Linked DNA regions of Homo sapiens. The protein of the gene in region 3 purifies or fractionates together with the protein of the main gene of each other region. This does not show direct contact. Each region holds a gene or a part of one and is shown on either strand. Other genes may lie near its edges.

Region 1 (4,312 bases), on a different chromosome or scaffold from region 3:
ACTTGGGAATTCTGCCTTCTCTCTGCCTAAAGATTGTATTACCACCTTAGATTTTGTACCTGTAAACTAAGGGAACACAGATTTCATTTTGGCAGAGATCCAGAATTTCACCCTTCTACAATGTAATTTCATTAAAAATAAAATAAAACAACATACAGAATCAATTACATTTTGCTAGGCCTGTGGTCGGACTTTCTAGTTCTCGCCCGAGTCCTCTTATCCTTAGGTCTGTGATAATCTGTGGTTTCAAGTTCTCAATAATATGCTCTCAATATATTATAGCTTATTTTACTCTCTTTACACACTTTTTTGTAAAAGAATTATTACAGTATGTATGTACCATCTAGTTCCATGATCAGAATTTGCATCTAAGCTGTACATAAAACTGCCACTTTAGATTAAAGCCAGTGAATGTTTTGTAAATGAGCATTAACCTGAAGTAATAACACATGTTTATCTGGCAGCCTGCAGGCAACTGAAGAGATCAGCTGTAGAGGACCCCAAATTACCAGCACTGTTCTGCATTATTCAGTTTTAACCTTTAAGACAGGAGGACACTGTGAGCCCAACTTGTGTTTGAACTTGTGTTGACATTTATATAATCATGATTAGTAACTTTTGCTTTATCAGAAAAGTGTTTGTCCAATAATGAGTAAATACTTGAGACATAGTCTGGCAGTTATTGTGGAAAAATGAGAGATGAGTTAGCCATGGCCTCTGCTCTCAGGGGCTTATAATCTAAGAGGAGAATGTATTCATATCAAGAGCCGCCAGTACAGAATTAAAGACTGTGGAGCAAAATGGCCAAAGCAGCGGTGTTGTCAATAAATGGTGTAGAGGGGCATAGGCTGAAAGAATGCTTCTTTGAAGGATGGAACTGGATTGGTGGAAAGAAGGAAAAAAAAAGAGTAAAGGGAGGGACAAATCTTTGGAGGTTTGTAACACAGTAAACAGAGCAGCTCCCAACAGAATGGAGTTGCAGTGGACATAAGTCACAGATAAGGCCTGACATTGAAAATAAAGTCAATTTGTGGCAGATCCTGATCCCCAGAGAAAGAAGTTTAGGCTCTATTCTGGATATAAAAAGGGAGAGAGACCAGATCAAATGGATGTTTAGGAATACTGATTTTAAAGTATCCCAAGTAGATTTGAAGTAGACCAACCAGAGTCCAAGAAATTAGCCTTGAGACTAATTTCATAATCCTATCATAAGGTCACAGGCTTTTGAAGGAGAGTGATGTAACAGTGCAGTCTACAAATTATGAATTATGCCATTCTCCCACAAACAGAGGCGTTTCAGCATGAAAAGGGAATTTGGCATAGGTAATGTGATGACCTAGATGGTTAGAAGGCCAGGTATTGCCCAGTCTTTTTCTTCCCCTTAGCTACAGATAATTTATTCATAGGGCCTACCTCAAATACATTTTTTTTCTGTTTTAATTATAGGAGCTTTACATTGGGCATTTGCCTTCCAGCTAACTGTGTGACCAAACGTTTTTGTATAATCACTGTTCCTATAGTTATATTAATGGTTATATGGAGAAGTCTAGGCTAATGAATGTTTGTTATAATAATTATAAAATTTACATTAGGCTTGTTTAATGTTCTATAATGGTGACAATATTATTTTCCATTTGTTTTTTGCCTTTAGCCAGCTTAGAGGAAAAGAGATGATACTATAAAAGTAAAATATTCTTGGGTTCTATGTAACCATTATATATTAACTCAATTCTAATTATGAATTTTGGACTTAGGTGACTTTTGAATAATATATATGTAAAGTAGACATCAACCTTCTGTTTGAAATATTGATTGGAAATTATAAATGCCTATGCATACTCTTGGACTTCAAGTACTTTCTATATGGGGAAGCAATCAATAGAAATGTTGAGGCAACTTAGAAATGGATTTTTACACTTCAGATTTTAGATATGCCACATTTTAAGAAATGCATCATTTTACCTTTGATAAACAAGTAGCCATTTCCTGGATTCAACTGGTGTCCAAGAATTAGTCATAATTGTGAAAAAAATTGCCTTTCCAGAGTAAAAGTTATTATGTCTTAATGTATTGTGTATAAATCTACAGTTCTAAATAAATAAGCATAATTTTCTCAAAATATTTCTGGCTTGGATAAAGCTAGTTTTGACTAGTGGCAAAATAAAGCCCTATTTGCCTTATCTGCTGATATGAGATTTTGGAGTCTGTGGGCTAAAGTGGGGAGCCCCTGACTCCTTGCAAAAGATACTCAGAGTGCCTTAAATTAATATTATCTCGGCAGGGCAGCAACTGGGCCAGCAGCCCTAGAGTCTGTAAAGGAAGGCAATACTTTCTTGGTGGGAGAGAGATTTTAAGAGATCACATTTTCAATGCACAAAGAATTTCTTTTAAGATTTTCCAAACGAGAGGGAGGGTGATGAGAGTCCCCATTTAATGTCATCCATGTGAATTTTCAAACTTGAGAACTGAGTCACAGCATAGGCTGCATGGGTGGTGGTGTGAACCTGTGGAGACTGGTGTGTGCTGTAAATGTGTCAACCTTTTCTCAGCTTAGGAACCTACCAAAGTACTAAAGGCCGCTGGGAGTCAGGGAGTATGAGATCGGAGATGAATAATGAGGAGGAGAGACTGAACAAAAGTCAGGTGGGGTGTTAAACATTTAAAAGAATCAAAGCTGGATCTCTGGCAACTGCTTTGCACCCTAACCCTGAGGCAGGAAAGCAAAATGTTGAGACTCAAAGTTAGAAAATGTAAAAGGAAATTAAGGAGGAAATAACAAAGGGAAAGAAAATTTTTAACTGTCATCAAATGAATGAAAACAAAATGACAGAATGACGAAAACAAAAAATAGGAGAAATAAAATTTTCCTTTCATTTGTTTTAAATGATAGTCTGACTTTAGTAACGTGAGTATATACTCTTTTTTCTTGTTGTTTGCAAAACCCCATCAGCCTTTTCAATTGTGTCAGGGAAAGAGAAAAGATGCCACAGCATTTGTTTTGAGCCACTCCATCACTGTGTCCTAGAGATGATAACAAAACTTGTCAGCAACTTCTGTACATCATATATTTTCTGTATCAGAGTTAAGATGTAGAAGCGATAGAAAGTTCTGCCCATTTTTAGCAGTATCAAGACCTAGTAATAGAATTGCTCGCATGTAAGCCCTCTTCCTTCTAAAAGAATGCCAAATATAAAGCATAATTCAGTAGTTATTTGTATTCCTTTGACATCTAAAAAAGTATCGATAGAGCAGTGGAAATAGTCAGTGGAAATGGGACCAGGGTTGGGGGAGGGAACGGTTCAGGCAAAGTTTTTAGAGATGTGAGATTTGTGCAAATTCCCCAGTGAACAAATTTCCATTAGTAAGTCAAACGTTACAATGAATCAGGTAGAGATAATATCAGAAAACCCAATATTAGCAACACTTCACATCCTTCTCAAGCAATGCTTCTAAGTTTGTGGATACTTTTGCTATATACATCTATACACCCAAAACATGTCAGCGTCAGGAAAACCAGTATTACACAGATTTACTTTTCTGATTTATTGGATTCTAAGTAAGGGTTTGTGAAGCAATCCTTGCTCAAATTCTTTTGAACATGGTTCTATGTTGTCACTTACACTTTGTAAACATATAATATATCCCCTGGCTATAGTTATAATAGCATCATGATAAATCAAACCAAAGTGCACCCCCCCACACCACCATCCCAAGCCAGATAATTGCTATTTTCAGATATCTCTGTTTGATGTCTGTATTTCTGTGAGATTTATTTTATGCTGATTTGCAACATATCATCCTATAGATTATCCATGCCATTTCAGAGTCATTACCTTTACTTTGGGTTGGTCTTCAAATGAGTTATTTTTCATATTCTCTAAGAGTGTTTCCCTCATTCTGGCAAGTATGTAGTGACAAATTCAATAGGTTAAAGTCCCTGTTACAAAGTTATATAAAGAGTTGTACTGAGAGCCCTTATGAAATGGGGACAATACCCTCTCTTAGGACATGTGTTCTTTACTTTAGAATTGTTAATTCCATTTTCTTACAGTCAGGCAGGTGCCAGAAAACAAAACAACTTGCCAAGACAGCAGTCCTCAGAGATGAGCATTCTAAATATTAGTAAATGATTATCTCCCACTATTAAAATCAATGATTGGTTCTGTCACTGGTTTGTAGCCATCATCATGTTTCTGCTTAGCTCTGGCACTTTCTGAAAGGAAAGTTTCTGATGTGGCTGAGTGCTAGTTTCTGGAAGAAACTGGAAGCTCTATTGTGAAGTAACTGGAAGGTGGTTGCTGCATTGAAGTTA
Region 2 (4,889 bases), on a different chromosome or scaffold from region 3:
AAGGGTTCTGGAACCAATCTCCCATAAATACTAAGGGACAACTCTACCCATAAAAAATAAATACAAGAGATACATAAAACTGAAAGAAACTCTTCTATCTTAAATATTCCATGTTAAAAATGAACAGAGCTCCTCCTTTACTCTTCAAAACCAACAGGTCCGTTTTTTTAAAAAAGGACAGTGACATAAAATTATTCAGTAAGGCTGGGCGCAGTGGCTCACACCTGTAATCCCAGCACTTTGGGAGGCCGAGGCGGGCAGATCACCTGAGGTCAGGAGTTTGAAACCAGTGTGACCAACATGGAGAAATGCCGTCTCTACTAAAAATACAAAATTAGCCGGGCGTGGTGGCACATGCCTGTAATCCCAGCTACTCAGGAGGCTGAGGCAGGAGAATTGCTTGAACCTGGGAGGCGGAGGTTGTGGTGAGCCGAGATCTCGCCATTGCACTCCAGCCTGGGCAACAAGAAGGAAACTCTGTCTCAAAAAAAAAAAAAAATTATTCAGTAAGAACCCAGCAATATCATATAAGTGACAGCTAGTAATTTTAGTTGTAAGTTTAATGACAGTATCTGATTTGCTCTCCTAAGCAGCAAGCAGAGAGACCCTAAAATACAAATGAATATGCTCACAGATACAAGCAGACCGATACTTCAGAATCACCCCCCATTCCTATATTCTACATAAATGGATTTCAATTAGTCAGATGAATGTGAAAGACAGTGCATTTCTTAACTCTTAGAAGTAAAACTGTTTGTGAAATCTAAATTAAAACAATGAAATCATAAAGATGAAGACTTGCTAGTGATTGCTAATGTCCAGGTAATAAAACCTGACTTAAAACACTGTATTTTGAAAAACAAGTCAAAAATAGAAACTCCTTAATGACAATGTAGTAAGGCTCCACCTTAAGTACTTGCAGATAATTCATCTGTCTAGATATGCATGACTTCAACCTCCTCTACTGCCTCACAGTGAACATTTTAGACAATGCCTTACACAGTGAAATTCCATTCAGATCAAAACTCAGAAAGTGTTACATTAACAAAATCCAGTAAAATCTGATAAAATAGTATAAATCATTTCAAAACACCTTGGTAAATAGATCTGTATTTACAGAACCTCCTTGAATATATAATAGGTAATGATGCAATGAAGACATTTTTATAATATTTATTAAGATAACAAATTTATAAATTGAAAGACTCAGAGGCACATAGTTTAAAAGGCCAATACCATGGGAATAATGAAGTCAACACAGAAAAGTAAGAAGATATGAACAGTTACAACCAATAGAAGATTTTCTTTAAAAGCCACATTCCCCTGGTGAACACATCATAGGAATCATCCTTCAAAATTACCATGATAAAAAGTTATTTCCTTCAAAGAAAAATAATTCTTTCTGCCTACCGAGCCTAGAAAATCCTATTTACAATGCAGTGTCCTGCCTTTCATCAGTATTATTTAATATGGCCTCCTCTATTCTGCCATTAGAAGTATGGAAAATTTTATAGCTACTGTATTTACAAATGCACATAATATTTAAATTTGCTCTTCATTGAGAACAACCAAATATATACTTAATCAAATCACAATACAAATGCTTTATAGTGTTGAAGACACATCTTATGGGGGAAAGGTGTATGGGAAGAGGTTTATTTAGAATTACGGTGTTTCTGAAGGATTACTAGGCCAATAATTCTGATAAAACTCAAGGCAGTCACAAAAACAGGTCTTTGTTGATGAAGAGTTTAATTTATTTCTGTTTTAACTGGACACACTGGACTTCTTCAGTCAACCTTCACCACACTGTATATTTTGGTAACAAACCAAAAGCATGCAAAGAAGCCAATTGTTCCTATAAGAGAAAAAATAAAAATAAACCCCTTTTCAAAGGAAGTTTCATACTTTACACAAAAATACAGACTTACAATGACTGGTTCCTTAAAAAAGTCGCAAAACTATAAACTATTACCCACCGGGAATATACTACAGATCTATGAGCACGTCTGAAAAATATACGACCACCTCAAATCAAGTTTCTTACAAAAATTGGTAGAACTTTTTTCTACTATAAGATTACCTAAGCTTTCTACAATACACATTATTTTCCTTACTACATAGAAAAGACTGAAGGATGTCAACTGTCCTTTCCTATTTAAGAATATTTTACAACAAAATGGAAAACGCTACTAGAATTTTTTAAGGTATGAGATGAATACATTAAAACAGGTTCAAATAATGATTAAATGGGGATATTTTCTAAGTACAGTTATTGGAAGTTATCAGTCTTCAAAGAATTATAATAAAATAACTCAGTAAGTTTTTACAAAATGTTAAAAGTGACATGATTAGATAGTAACAAAAATGCATCCTAGCTGAAAATGAGGGACAGCATGGTAGCAGAGAACAGAGCAGCTCTGTCACAAACTGTGTGTGTCATCCTTGGGCAAGTCCACTGACATCTCCAAGCCCATTTATCATATTAACTAGGGAGAAATTTATCTGTCCTCATTGCCTCCATAGACTATTATGTAGAGTAAATGAGATAATTCATGAAAACAATGTATGGCTTGATTTTCAGGTATCAGTCTAGATTCCAAAGAATTTGAATGCTAGATGGGGACACTCTTTCAATGAGACAAAAATGAGGTTCAAAGGGGTTAAGTGACTGTCTCATGGTCACATGGATGGTACTTGTGGCCAGAAATCAAATGCGTTTTTTCTGACTTCAAGCATAGTACTCCTTGCACATGCACACATAAGGGACTATAAATAATCCTTGTATAAATTTTACATTTAAAGTCCCAATAGTTTTCACCATTGTTTTAAATGCAGTACTCTGAGAAAATATTAAAGGAGATTTTCTAAATCAAGAGACTATACATGGGACATTACCGTGGGAAATTACAAACATCATTATATCCATCCTTACATTGTACATGTATTGAGGCCCTACTATATGCAAAGCACAATGTGTGTTTTGGAGGACATACAAATATACCTTTTGCATAGTCAAAAGGATAATTATTCAGGCTAGGGCTGGGGTTAATTTCAGAAAAGCAATAATGAAAACTCAGTATATTTATATAACTTTGTACTTACTTGCATAAATTTCAAGATGACAAACAATATTTTAAGATGAGAAGAACATTTAATCACTATCCAGGCAACTCTAAGAAACTTAAGTTTAGTTACTTAATTTTGTTCTTAATATGGAATATATGTACGTACTAAAAGTGGCGTCTTTCCTTTTGTGACAGAATAATTACTTCTGTTTTGTAAAATGGATTGACTTAAATACAATAAAATGGCATTGCTCTGGAGTACTGAAGCAAATACAGACCATACCCTATTTTAGAGAAAGGTAAGGCATTTAAAGGGCTCACTACTCCCTTATCCAGAATGCTTCCACCTGTTCACTAAAGGAAAAATACAATTGAAGAAAGTGAAATACACTATAAGTTACTGGTTTAACTGGTTGGTTCCATTTGATATGACTCCATAATTCAGATTACAAAATTCAACTCTGAATGAATGAAAATATAACACTTTAAAAAACAAAATCAGCTGGGCGCAGTGGCTCACGCCCAATCCGAGCACTTCGGGAGGCCAAGGCGGGCAGATCGTCTGAGGTCAGGGGTTCGAGACCATCCTGGCTAACATGGTGAAACCCCATCTCTACTAAAAATAAAAAAAATTAGCCGGGCGCAGTGGCGGGCGCCTGTAGTCCCAGCTACTCGGGAGGCTGAGGCAGGAGAATGGCGTGAACCTGGGAGGCAGAGTTTGCAGTGAGCTGAGATCGCGCCACTGCACTCCAGCCTGGGCAAAAGAGTGAGACTCCGTCTCAAAAAAATAAAAATAAAATAAATAAAAATAAATAAAATTTAGGTGATGGTTAAGCTATCATTTTCTGTATCATATGTCTGGAAAAACAACAGATATTCACAATGATCGTTATTTTTTGTGTGTAGGCTAGGAATAAATTATTCTGTATATGCATTTATGGACACACAGGGCACAAAAACAGTCATTCCTTGTTTCACTGGCTACTGCTGTTTTATAGATGATTTATTAAAATTTACAGCTCTGGACCTAAATTTATCACGTAGCACCAAGACACGCACCCCACCATGTCTGATCAATGACCTGGAATACAGAATCGATGGAAGTGCCTTAAGCCTGAGACAGCAGCAGAGGCCCTTCAAAACCCGACTCCAGGCTCTGAAATGCTAACAGATGAGTGAAAAGTAGAACAGTTTTAATTGGAGGAAAAAAACTTGTTCTTTTTTCTTTTTGGCTCCTGCATTTTCTTCCATGACATGCGTGAGGAGCTAACATTTTAGATGCACGCTTCGGGCAGCGTTACTTGTGACAAAGGAAGGTGCTATAATTCCTAAGTTCAGTCACTCACGCGACAAATGTTTACCAAGCACCCGGGGCTGTGAGATACCGAAAACTTTCATCTAGTTGGATAGAGAAGATATATACATATATAAAATAAATACCAATAAAATACACACTATATCCTGTTCAATGCTTGAATTTTAAAGTGGAGATAAAAGCTTCTAGATTAAGGAATGTCCCATTATCTTTCCTTGATATCCCCTACCTACTCTCAGCCTCATCTTGACTTCACCTCCTCAATTTCTACTTACTCCTAAACTTAAGTCACTATAGCTTCTACCCTATTTCTGAAGTGGCAAAAAAAAAAAAAAGGACTGTGTGTACCTTTAAGAGGTTAACAGACGAAAACCATGAGCTGTACTGGCCCATGCGTCCCTGAACCTTTACCACAATTATGACCCTGTTTAGCCTTCTTCCCCAGCTTCTGTTTCATCATCTTTATGCAACTCACAGGTGGGCAGACCCAACTATGCCTAGTTGTG
Region 3 (5,302 bases):
GCCACCACACTTGGCTCCTCATAGATTCTGACATAACAGCCTCTAACCCCTCATAAGAAGCACTGCCACTTCAAATACAAATATCCTGGTGTGCTAGGTAGGAGAAAAGTTCCAAGAACCAACTTACTATTTTGAGCATCAAAATGCTCAAAATAGTAAGTTTTGCAAAATGCTTTGTTACAAAATAATTTAATCCCATTGATCAAAGACTATCTGAAAACCCTTAGGGGATGAATCAGTATTTAAAAAGGTGGGACAAGGGTGCTCTTAATATCCATATTGACTAGAAGGCACAGGAATACTCTCTTCCTACAATCCACAGTCAAATGCAGGAAGCTGATATTTGCATGGAATACAAGGGCTACCTGCCAAATGCTAGCTTCCGTTGTGCCGCCCTCTTTAAACTATCATCTATCATGCCCTCTTTAAACTACCATGCTCGCTATACTAGTTGTAAAAACAGACTGGTAAAGTCAGTTCACTCTGAAGTTGCCAGTGTCCTTCCAGGGTCTTTTTTTTTTTTCCTTTTTTTAAATTTCAGAGACACAGTCTCACTCTGTCTCCCAGGCTGGAATGCAGTGGCATAATTATAGCTCACTGCAACCTGAAACTCCTGAGCTCAAGTGATCCTCTTACCTCAGCCTCCTGAGTAGCTGGGACTACAGAGGCACACCGCCACCATGCCCGGCATTTTAAGTGAAATACTTTAAGACACGTTTGACCCTAAAGTATCACACTCACAGCATTGATCCCAGAGAGCTGCTGAGAGAGCTGGAGCACAATGGAAATGATGATGGGCTGTCGGTAGCTGGACACTCTAAAGAGCTCTAGCACGGTGACTTGCTTTTCTTGTGACATCCTTGCACTCTCATCTTTCATCTCCTGGATGTCTTGGGATACATCCTGGGTGCCCCACAACCGCTGGAGGACTGGTGAAAAGAAGAAAGAGGAAAGGATAAAAGAGAATGTGCTGCCCCAAATTCATTCTTCCTGTAAGGCAGCCAGGAAAGGGCCGCACGAGGTGAGGTGATGGGTAGCATCCATTCCTTTTTTTTTTTTTGAGACAGAGTTTCACTTTTGTTGCCCAGGCTGGAGTGCAATGGCATGATCTCAGCTCCCTGCAACCTCCACTTCCCGGGTTCACACGATTCTCCTGCCTCAGCCTCCCAAGTAGCTGGGATTACAGGCATGCGCCCCCATGCCCGGCTAATTTTGTATTTTTAGTAGAGACAGGGTTTCTCCATGTTGTTTCAGGCAGGTCTTGAACTCCTGACCTCAGGTGACCCGCCTCGGCCTCTTATAATGCTGGATTACAGGCATGAGCCATCACACCCTGCCTGATAGCATCCATTCCTAAACCCGCCTTTTCACCTCATTCTTTAGGGGCTGAAAATTTTACTCAGGAGTAATCAGAACCCTCCTCACTTGGATTCTGAGAGGCAGGGAAAGAGTGTAACAGAAAGTAGGTCCAGTACAATCATCCCTAAAACAAACCACAACCATATAATTCATGTAGTAAGGTGTGAAGGATACTCACTCTGCTTAGCATTCTCCTCTTCTTTTCTGTTAATGAGCAAAAATCTGGGACTTTCAGGGCAAAATGGAAGGGCTGCACTTTGTAGGATAGCAGGAAGGATGGTAAAACCCAGTAGCAGCGGCCATAGCTCTTCAGACCCAAGGATGAATTCCAGACCAAAGATCTAGAAACCACACAAAGATAATGCTATAAACCCCATACTTCACAGGCCACAAGTTCATTAAAACACAAAAAGTTCAGAAAATCATACATTCTTTTACCATGTGAAAAAATAAACAAATTGTGTTTCTTTTCCTTTCTCTACTCAGCATGGTTTTTTTTTTTTTTTTTTTTTTGAGACGGAGTCTTGCTCTGTCACCCAGGCTGGAGATCAGTGGCACAATCTCGGCTCACTGCAAACTCTGCCTACCGGGTTCACGCCATTCTCCCGCCTCAGCCTCCGGAGTAGCTGGGACTACAGGTGCCCGCTACCACGCCCGACCAATTTTTTGTGTTTTTAGTAGAGATGGGGTTTCACCATGTTAGCCAGGCTGGTCTTCATCTGCTGACCTCGTGATCTGCCCACCTCGGCCTCCCAAAGTGCTGGGATTACAGGCGTGAGCCACAGCGCCCGGCCTCAGCCTGCTTCTTCAGCTACTATCTATTATCTAAAACTTCCATATGTAATTGAACATGTGCCAGATATTCTTCAGTGCTTTACCTATGTTAACTTTTTTAATGACCCATGAAACTAACACTCATTAAGTATGAGAAGTTCTAGAGTACCTGGGCCACCAGAATTCCAACAACGATGCCCAGCTGGTTGAGAGTGCCAAAGGCACCCCGCAGGGCAGTAGGCGAGATCTCTCCAATGTACATGGGCACAAAACCTGTGCAGAGTCCGCAGAAGAGGCCAATAACCAAGCGACCCAGGATCAGCATTTCAACCGACTTAGCTACTTTACACAGTCCCATAAAGCAGCCACCAGTGACAGCCAACAGGTTGACAATCAGCATTGAATTGCGCCTGTAAGGTTAATCAAAGACAAAGTAGAATTAGCAAAGTGAGAGGCTCCTAACTTCTCCTCTGTCCTCATTATTCTGTTCTTCTCCAGGCTCATATCATCCCTTTTTTTTTTAATCTAACTTTTGTTTTTCACTTTCTATTATCAGAACATTTCTAGTTGGGAACCAGGTGTGATGGTGCCCGCCTGTAGTCCCAGGCACTCAGGGAGCTGAGGTCGGAGGTCGAAGCTGTAGTGAGCTATGATTGGGCCATTACACTCCAGCCCGGGTGACAGAGCAAGACCCTCTTTCTTGGGGGGTAAAAAAACAAAAGAACAACATAATCAAGTAAAACAGGTTGCTTTACCGATTTTTAAATGTGAATTCCAATTGCATTTCTAGAATATCTAATTGGCATTTTTTTTTTTTTTTTTTGGAGACGGAGTCTTGGTCTGTCACCCAGGCTGGAGTGCAGTGGCAGGATCTCGGCTCACTGCAACCTGCGCCTCCCAGGCTCAAGAGATTCTCCTGCCTCAGCTTCCAAGCAGCTGGGATTGCAGGCGCATGCCACCACGCCCGGCTAATTTTTTGTATTTTTAGTAGGGACAGGGTTTCACCGTGTTAGCCAGGATGGTCTCGATCTCCTGACCTTGTTATCTGCCCGCCTCAGCCTCCCAAAGTGCTGGGATTACAGGCGTGAGCCACGGCACCGGCTTTTTTTTTTTTGAGACGGGGTTTTGCTCTTTCGCCCAGGCTGGTGTGAAGTGGCCAGATCTCAGCTTACTGCACCCTCTGCACCCCCACTGCAGGTTCAAGTGATTTTCCTGCCTCAGCCTCCGGAGTAGCTGGAATTATAGGTGCCTGTCACTACGCCCGGCTAATTTTTGTATTTTTGGTAGAGACAGGGTTTTGCCATGTTGGCCAGGCTGGTCTCGAACTCCTGACCTCAGCTGATCCACTTGCCTCGGTTTCCCAAAGTGCTAGGATTACAGGGGTGAGCCACCACACCGTGCCTAATTGGCAAATTAAAACAGTTCCTTCATTAGTCATAAATGAAAATATATTCTACCTTCTAAAACATATTGTTAAGCTTCTATAGAATAAGACTTTTTTTTTGTCATTATCCACATTTGCCATAGACAAAAATAATTCCTACCAATCCTGGGTAAAATAATAAAAACATTTATAATACAAGTAAACAACTTCGGACCTTGTAAATTAAGTATGTTTCTAGAAACCCCATAGTTGAGTTTACTAGGGAATAATTCTGAACTATCCCTAGCTGGACTGCAAAGGCCAATCACTCACAGTTCATCTCTTGCACAGCTGGGTGGGAGCTCTCCAGGGTAGTAGAGCTCCAAGCAAGGGCAGTCATATTCGGGGCCAGTTGGACTAGGTTTCCCTTGATTAGAATTCAAGGTGTTCTTATTCAAAGGCATCATCACCTCCCTGCCCTAACTCTCCACACTTGTCCTCAATGTGGCTGGTAGAGCCCACTTCCTTGCCCAGTTTCTAGTCAATACCTGCCAAAGCGGTTGACGAAGAGTCCGACGGAAAAGGAGCCGATCATACCCCCGACGGAAAATATGGCCACAGACAAGGACCAGAGAGACGTGAGCAGCACCTCAGAGGGTGGGGCATTTCCCTTGTCCGTCAAAGTTTTATTGATAAATTCCTTTATGATCTGCAAAATAAAAGGGTTGGTGGAAGAACAGACTGTTACAGTTGGATGAGAACAAAAGACAAACATTAGGGATCATTTCCTTCCTAGAGAATCAAGGGAATAAATAGACAGGAATGGAAGGGGCAGATAACGTATTGGAATTTATGTTAACTCTCGCTGGAATAGTAATTCTATTTGTCCTGAAAATCCCAGTAGGTGGCAGCACCGATGTTCACAGTCTACCCCAGCCCTCTGCTAAGGGAACCCAGCTTCTTTGTAACTAACCCCTAAGGGATAATACAGGATGTGCATCACTATGAGGTGAAAGAGTGGGAGGAAGAACAGCACCGCCCAGCGTTCCGGGAGTAAGTGAGCTTTGTGCTTCGATTAGATGACCCCACTAATTTTCCCCACCAATATTGTCTCCATCTTCAGTCTTGGACAGGATAGATACAAAGTTTGTCTTAAAATCCCCTAGTTTGGGGAGGGACCCTCACTAACTGTGTTGCTCAGGATGGTGTTTAACTCCTGGACTCAAGTGATCTTTAAGCCTCAGCCTCAGGAGTAGCTGGGACTCCAGGCAGATGCCACCATGCCTGGCCTTAAATTCTGAATTCCTGAAACCCTACTTAAAGGAATAACTTCCCTATTCTAAATTCTAATTATTGTGGCCTGGCACTCACCTTCTCAGGAGCATTGATGACCCCAGTGTTGTAGCCAAATTGGAAAGAGCCGATTGTAGCAACTGTGATGGCAAATATCAGAGCTGGGGTGACCTGGAGGGAGGGAAGACAGAGGAGAGAATAGTCCTTAAAACTTGTGATTGATGACTGTTTCTTATTAATTATGGAGCTGTATTAGGAGAATTTGAGTTATGAGTGGTATGAAAAGAACATCCAATGAGATTTAGGTAATTAATGGGGAAGACAAAGGAATAGATTATACTAAAGAACTTATCTGGAGATAAGAATGTGAAGTTAACTTGGTAAAAATGAAAGAAAATTGGGGAAGGAAGAAGTTAAGAGAAACTGGGTTGGTCAGTTTGGAAATATTTAAAAACTTGCATCAGGCAAATGTAGGCATAGAATTCCACTCACGAACTGGGAGGGCAGAGAAAA
Region 4 (4,312 bases), on a different chromosome or scaffold from region 3:
GACTTTTCTTTGCTTTTCCTACCTTTATTTTCCCCATGTGTGTGTGTACACACATACACATACAACTTTATCTTGTGTGTATGTATATGTATCTTATACCATGGCAGCCTATAAATGAGTAAATAGATACTAAGCCAGTGCCTTCCTTCCCACTGCCCACTGCAGCCCACCTTTTGTTCTCTCTACCCTAGTCAAGCAGCCTGCTTCTCTACTGCCCATCATTTTTGGTAAACCCACTGCCAGGAATGCCCTGCTGTTTCTCTCTGCCAGCTGCAGTTCTATGGCCCATGCCGGCAGTGCAGTCCTGTTCTGTATTGCTGGCCTGGGCACAGGCCTCCTTGAGGTCTCCTGGTCTTCTCTGAGTGCCCCTCTGAGCCCAGCCAGCTCTCTCTCAGCATGGTGGCTTCCCAAAGCCAGCTCTGGTGACAATCATGTCACACTCTGCTACAGAAACAAAGTGTCCACGGATTTCTCACTCTGGCATTTAAGGCCTCCCCATTTAGGGTCACCCCAAGCACCTGTTGACGCTAGCTTATCCCCTTCCCTCAATCACACACCAAGGCTCCACCAACCAGATTTTCCCTGCTTTAAACACGTCCTATGCTTTCCTTCTTTCCTTTGTTCATGCTGTTCTTTCCTTCTAGAAGTGATGCTCCCTCCCCCACACCCAGCCTTCCTCCCCATCTCCACCTGTAAAAATGTCCTCATTCCTTGGGCCAGGGTGCACGCATTAGTGGCCTCTCCTGCTGAGAGCTACCTCACTTCCACATTAGACCTCGTGCAGTGGGGAGTAAAAGAGCCACCTTCCAGCTGGGAAGCTGAGGTGCCCAGGTACAAACCCAAGGCTATCTTGACCCCAGCCTTCTACTTTCACTGACCTGGCTGTGCTAAGCCCCTTGTGGATGGGCTTCTCAAACTCAACACTACTGACATTTTGGGCCAGACAATTCCTTGTTATGAGGGCGTCCTGTGCACGGAGGATGTTCAGAAGCATCCCTGACCACTATCTATGAGATGCCAGTTAAACCCCATTCCCCCTCCCCCAATTTATGGTGAGCCAAAACGTCTGAAGACATTGCCAAATGTCCCCTGTGGGGAGGGGAGGGAAGGGCTATCAGTCCTGGTTGAGAACTAGTGGTCTAGCTTGAAGGTTGGCCACTGTTACAGCATTACGTTCTGCCCAGTATTGAAGTCACCTACGACCACTAAAACAATCTCATGCGCAATTTGATCACAATACTTTTGTACACTGCACAGCAATAGTTCTCAAATGGATTGCATCAAAATTTTCTGGGATGTTTGTTAAAAATACGTCTCACTGGGTCCTACCTTGGTAGATGTGGGGATGGGCCCCAGATGTGTGTTTTTAACAAGTTCTTTGGAGAGTCCCAATGCACAGACATCCGGGAAACCAATTCTACTGATACTTCTAGAACAGCACTGTCCAAAGAACTTTCTCCAGTGATGGAAATATTCTATATCTGCACTGTCCAAGATGTCACCATTAGCAACATGGGCAACTGGGCACTTGCAAGGATGCTAGTGCAAGTGAGGAAATGAACTTTTAATTCAACTGAATTTTAACTAATTTAAGTCGGAACACCCACATGTGGCTGCAGAATTGGAGAGCACAGGCCCAGCTCTTCCGCTAGGAGCCTTCCCAAAGGCTCTCATTTAATGACACCTCCTTCCTTGTTACGCCACATGCTGCTGAAATGCAGTGCTCAGGGGCTGCCCGCTGATTGAGAGGACAGGGAAGAATGACTGGACCCATGTCTAAATAATGTCCCAGAAGGGGAAACTCACGGTTTCTCACAAGCCTCAAGAGGTTAGATATGTGCCTTTCCGGCAGGCATGGCCAGAGCACACCCGCCTCTTCCCTCTGGGTCAAGTGTGGCCCATCACGGGCCACATTCAGTGCCCAATGTCCCTTCTCCCTGGTTCCTGGAAGTGATGGGTGGGCCCAGACAGCCTGTTACAAACTTACCCCCTACTGCTGGATATGCTTCCCCAATCCCAGTGCCTCTGACTCTACTGCAGCACAATCCTGTCTGTATCTGGAATGTCAAAGCACACCACAGCCCCATCAGAGAGTGCAACAGGGCTGTGGAATCCAGTCATTTGGATGTGGTTCCAGCTCTGAATTAAGGAGCTGGGAGGCCTTGAGCATGCTCTATCTGGTTTGCGGCGTCACTGTCCTCACCTGCTTAGAGCCACTTCATGAAGTGCCCACACTACTGCTCTTTCTTTGCGTAAGCCAGCCTTGTTCAGAAACAGTCTGGGGCCCATGTGATGGGCGCATACTGTATTTGGGTAGAAAGTGGGGGTTGGGGGGTTGTGTATGTAGAACCAGTAAGGGGCTTATGGCTCTACCATTTGGTGGCCCCTTGGCTCCTACTTTGTTGAGAGCAGACCAGTGGAGGGTGCTGCTGGGCAGAAGTATTGGCCAGAGCGGCCCTGAGGGGTCCTCCTGTCTCGAACGTGAAGAAGAGGTGCAGCAGCCCCCCATCTAGACCTGCAAGCAGCAGACGGAAACCTCATGCCACACATTCACCAAGTCCTGAGCTGAGCAAGTGAGGCCAGGTGTGAACAGTTTATACAGCGCCACAAAGCAGTGCTTCTGTGTGGCTGCTCTCAATGTGGAACACAATTATGAACATGACCCCAAAGCACACACCTTCAAAACACCTGGATTTGGACTGTGAGTAAGCAGAAATGCCAACACCCCATCCCGAAAGAAGCAGAATGACGGCTGCCTCTGCCTGGTCCCTCTGGGACCTCTGGTGGCCGCTCTAGCACCTGCCTCGTGAGAGGCCCAGCAAGCTGGCTCCTGGGCAGAAGTGAAAGGATGGGGGTACATCTACCCAGATGAGGGGACCCCTTAGCTAGAAAAAGGGACACAGGTCACAACACCCTGTGCAGTCTGTTTGCAACCTGCCATGTATCCTTTCTCCCAAGGGGCCCAAAGGTCAGTGGTAGCTGGATGAAACGCTAGGCATACCAGGACGATGACGAGCTCACTGTCACCCTGCACTCAGCCCAGTCTGACCTGACTGTGGGCCCAGCCTGGAGCCCTCAACAGCGCGACTCTGGGAGAATGTGAATGAAACGATCACCACTCACCCCGGCCAGTGTGCCACACCTTGGGAGCTGGTGGGATGGAGAGCGGGCAGTGCAACCCTTCCCCTTGCTGGCAGGCACAGCGGAGATCGCCTGCACCTTGTCTGCCCCTCTCCCTTGTTCCTGCTCCTATGTTTGCCCTTCAGGTTGGCTTCTGTATGTTCCTGGAACCTCAAAGGAGTCCCATGTGACAGGTGATTCCACAGGGGCTCTCTCCTGAGCTCTGGAGCCTGTCTCTGCTACTGAGAGCCGTGGGGTGCCCTAGTTTAAGTTTCTGAGCCTCAGTTTCCTTATCTGTGATTGGAGTCTCATAACTGACCAACCAGGAGATACTCCTCAAACCCCCTCCTCTCGGCCACTGCTTGTCCTCTGGTGACACACAGACCGTGGGACTGCTGGGGCACCTGCTCCTTGGTGAGCCTTCCTGACCCCCCCGGGGGGTGGGTCTCGAGTCTGCTCTGAGAGCTCCTTGAGCAAGGCTGGAGAGGCCTAGCTTCCCTCCAGGCCTGTGTCAGGCTCCCCCTTGCTGCAGCCCTGGGACTCCTGGTGTCCTGCCCGCCCTGCCCCAGCAGCTCCATGAGGCCTCCAACATTAAGCTGTGTGCTTCTTTTGCTTTTGATTCTCATCAGCCCAAAGGTGCCCTTCCATCTTCCCAGGGCCCTTCTTTGATCTGTCAGGGATGTCTACCCTCAGAGGCCTATAGGATCAGTGGGGGATGTTGGAGAGCTGCTGTGTAGGGACAGGTCCACTGTAAAGGATGCCAGCCAGGGATCTGCATGCTTGTTTTCTGGTGGCTTACTCAGGCAGGGACATCTGACTAGATGCAGGGGAGGCCCAGGTGTGGGCAATGGCTTCCCCTGCTGAAACAGTTTTCATCTGATTCTCTCAAATGCCCTTAGAGGGACAGTGTCCCACATGGAATAGGGCTGGATATGGAGGAAGCAAGCCTGAGTGTGAATCCTAACTGTAACTTACATGCTGTGTGACACTGGGCAAACCAGACTACCTCTCTGAACCTCAGTTTCAGCATCTAGGTGTCTCTTCAGGTTGGGGCTGGTTTGTGGGTGATGCGCAATGGTCCCACAGATCAGTGGGGAGCCTCAGGAGCTGTTCAGGGCTGGGTAGAGAAGGTGGGCGGGACAAGGAGGGGGCATCTGTCTGAAGGGGGGAGCTGTCTTGAGTAGACTGAACC

The links.
Region 1: the proteins of SLC2A3 (region 3) and ALDH1A1 purify together in Homo sapiens (affinity purification with mass spectrometry; one large-scale study listed by BioGRID and IntAct). This does not show direct contact.
Region 2: the proteins of SLC2A3 (region 3) and TM9SF2 fractionate together in Homo sapiens (co-fractionation; one large-scale study listed by BioGRID). This does not show direct contact.
Region 4: the proteins of SLC2A3 (region 3) and RAB6B purify together in Homo sapiens (affinity purification with mass spectrometry; one large-scale study listed by BioGRID and IntAct). This does not show direct contact.

What each region holds. Positions count from the first base shown.
Region 1 is NC_000009.12:72,943,054-72,947,365, forward strand, and holds part of ALDH1A1 (aldehyde dehydrogenase 1A1), read right to left. Parts: intron 1-4,312. UniProt on the Homo sapiens protein: Cytosolic dehydrogenase that catalyzes the irreversible oxidation of a wide range of aldehydes to their corresponding carboxylic acid.
Region 2 is NC_000013.11:99,559,660-99,564,548, reverse strand, and holds the end of TM9SF2 (transmembrane 9 superfamily member 2 precursor), read right to left. Parts: intron 1,859-4,889; coding exon 1,791-1,858; 3' UTR 501-1,790; downstream 1-500. UniProt on the Homo sapiens protein: In the intracellular compartments, may function as a channel or small molecule transporter.
Region 3 is NC_000012.12:7,928,943-7,934,244, forward strand, and holds part of SLC2A3 (solute carrier family 2, facilitated glucose transporter member 3), read right to left. Parts: intron 4,961-5,302; coding exon 4,868-4,960; intron 4,206-4,867; coding exon 4,045-4,205; intron 2,544-4,044; coding exon 2,303-2,543; intron 1,701-2,302; coding exon 1,538-1,700; intron 930-1,537; coding exon 742-929; intron 1-741. UniProt on the Homo sapiens protein: Facilitative glucose transporter. Can also mediate the uptake of various other monosaccharides across the cell membrane. Mediates the uptake of glucose, 2-deoxyglucose, galactose, mannose, xylose and fucose, and probably also dehydroascorbate.
Region 4 is NC_000003.12:133,829,883-133,834,194, forward strand, and holds part of RAB6B (ras-related protein Rab-6B), read right to left. Parts: intron 1-4,312. UniProt on the Homo sapiens protein: The small GTPases Rab are key regulators of intracellular membrane trafficking, from the formation of transport vesicles to their fusion with membranes. Rabs cycle between active GTP-bound and inactive GDP-bound states.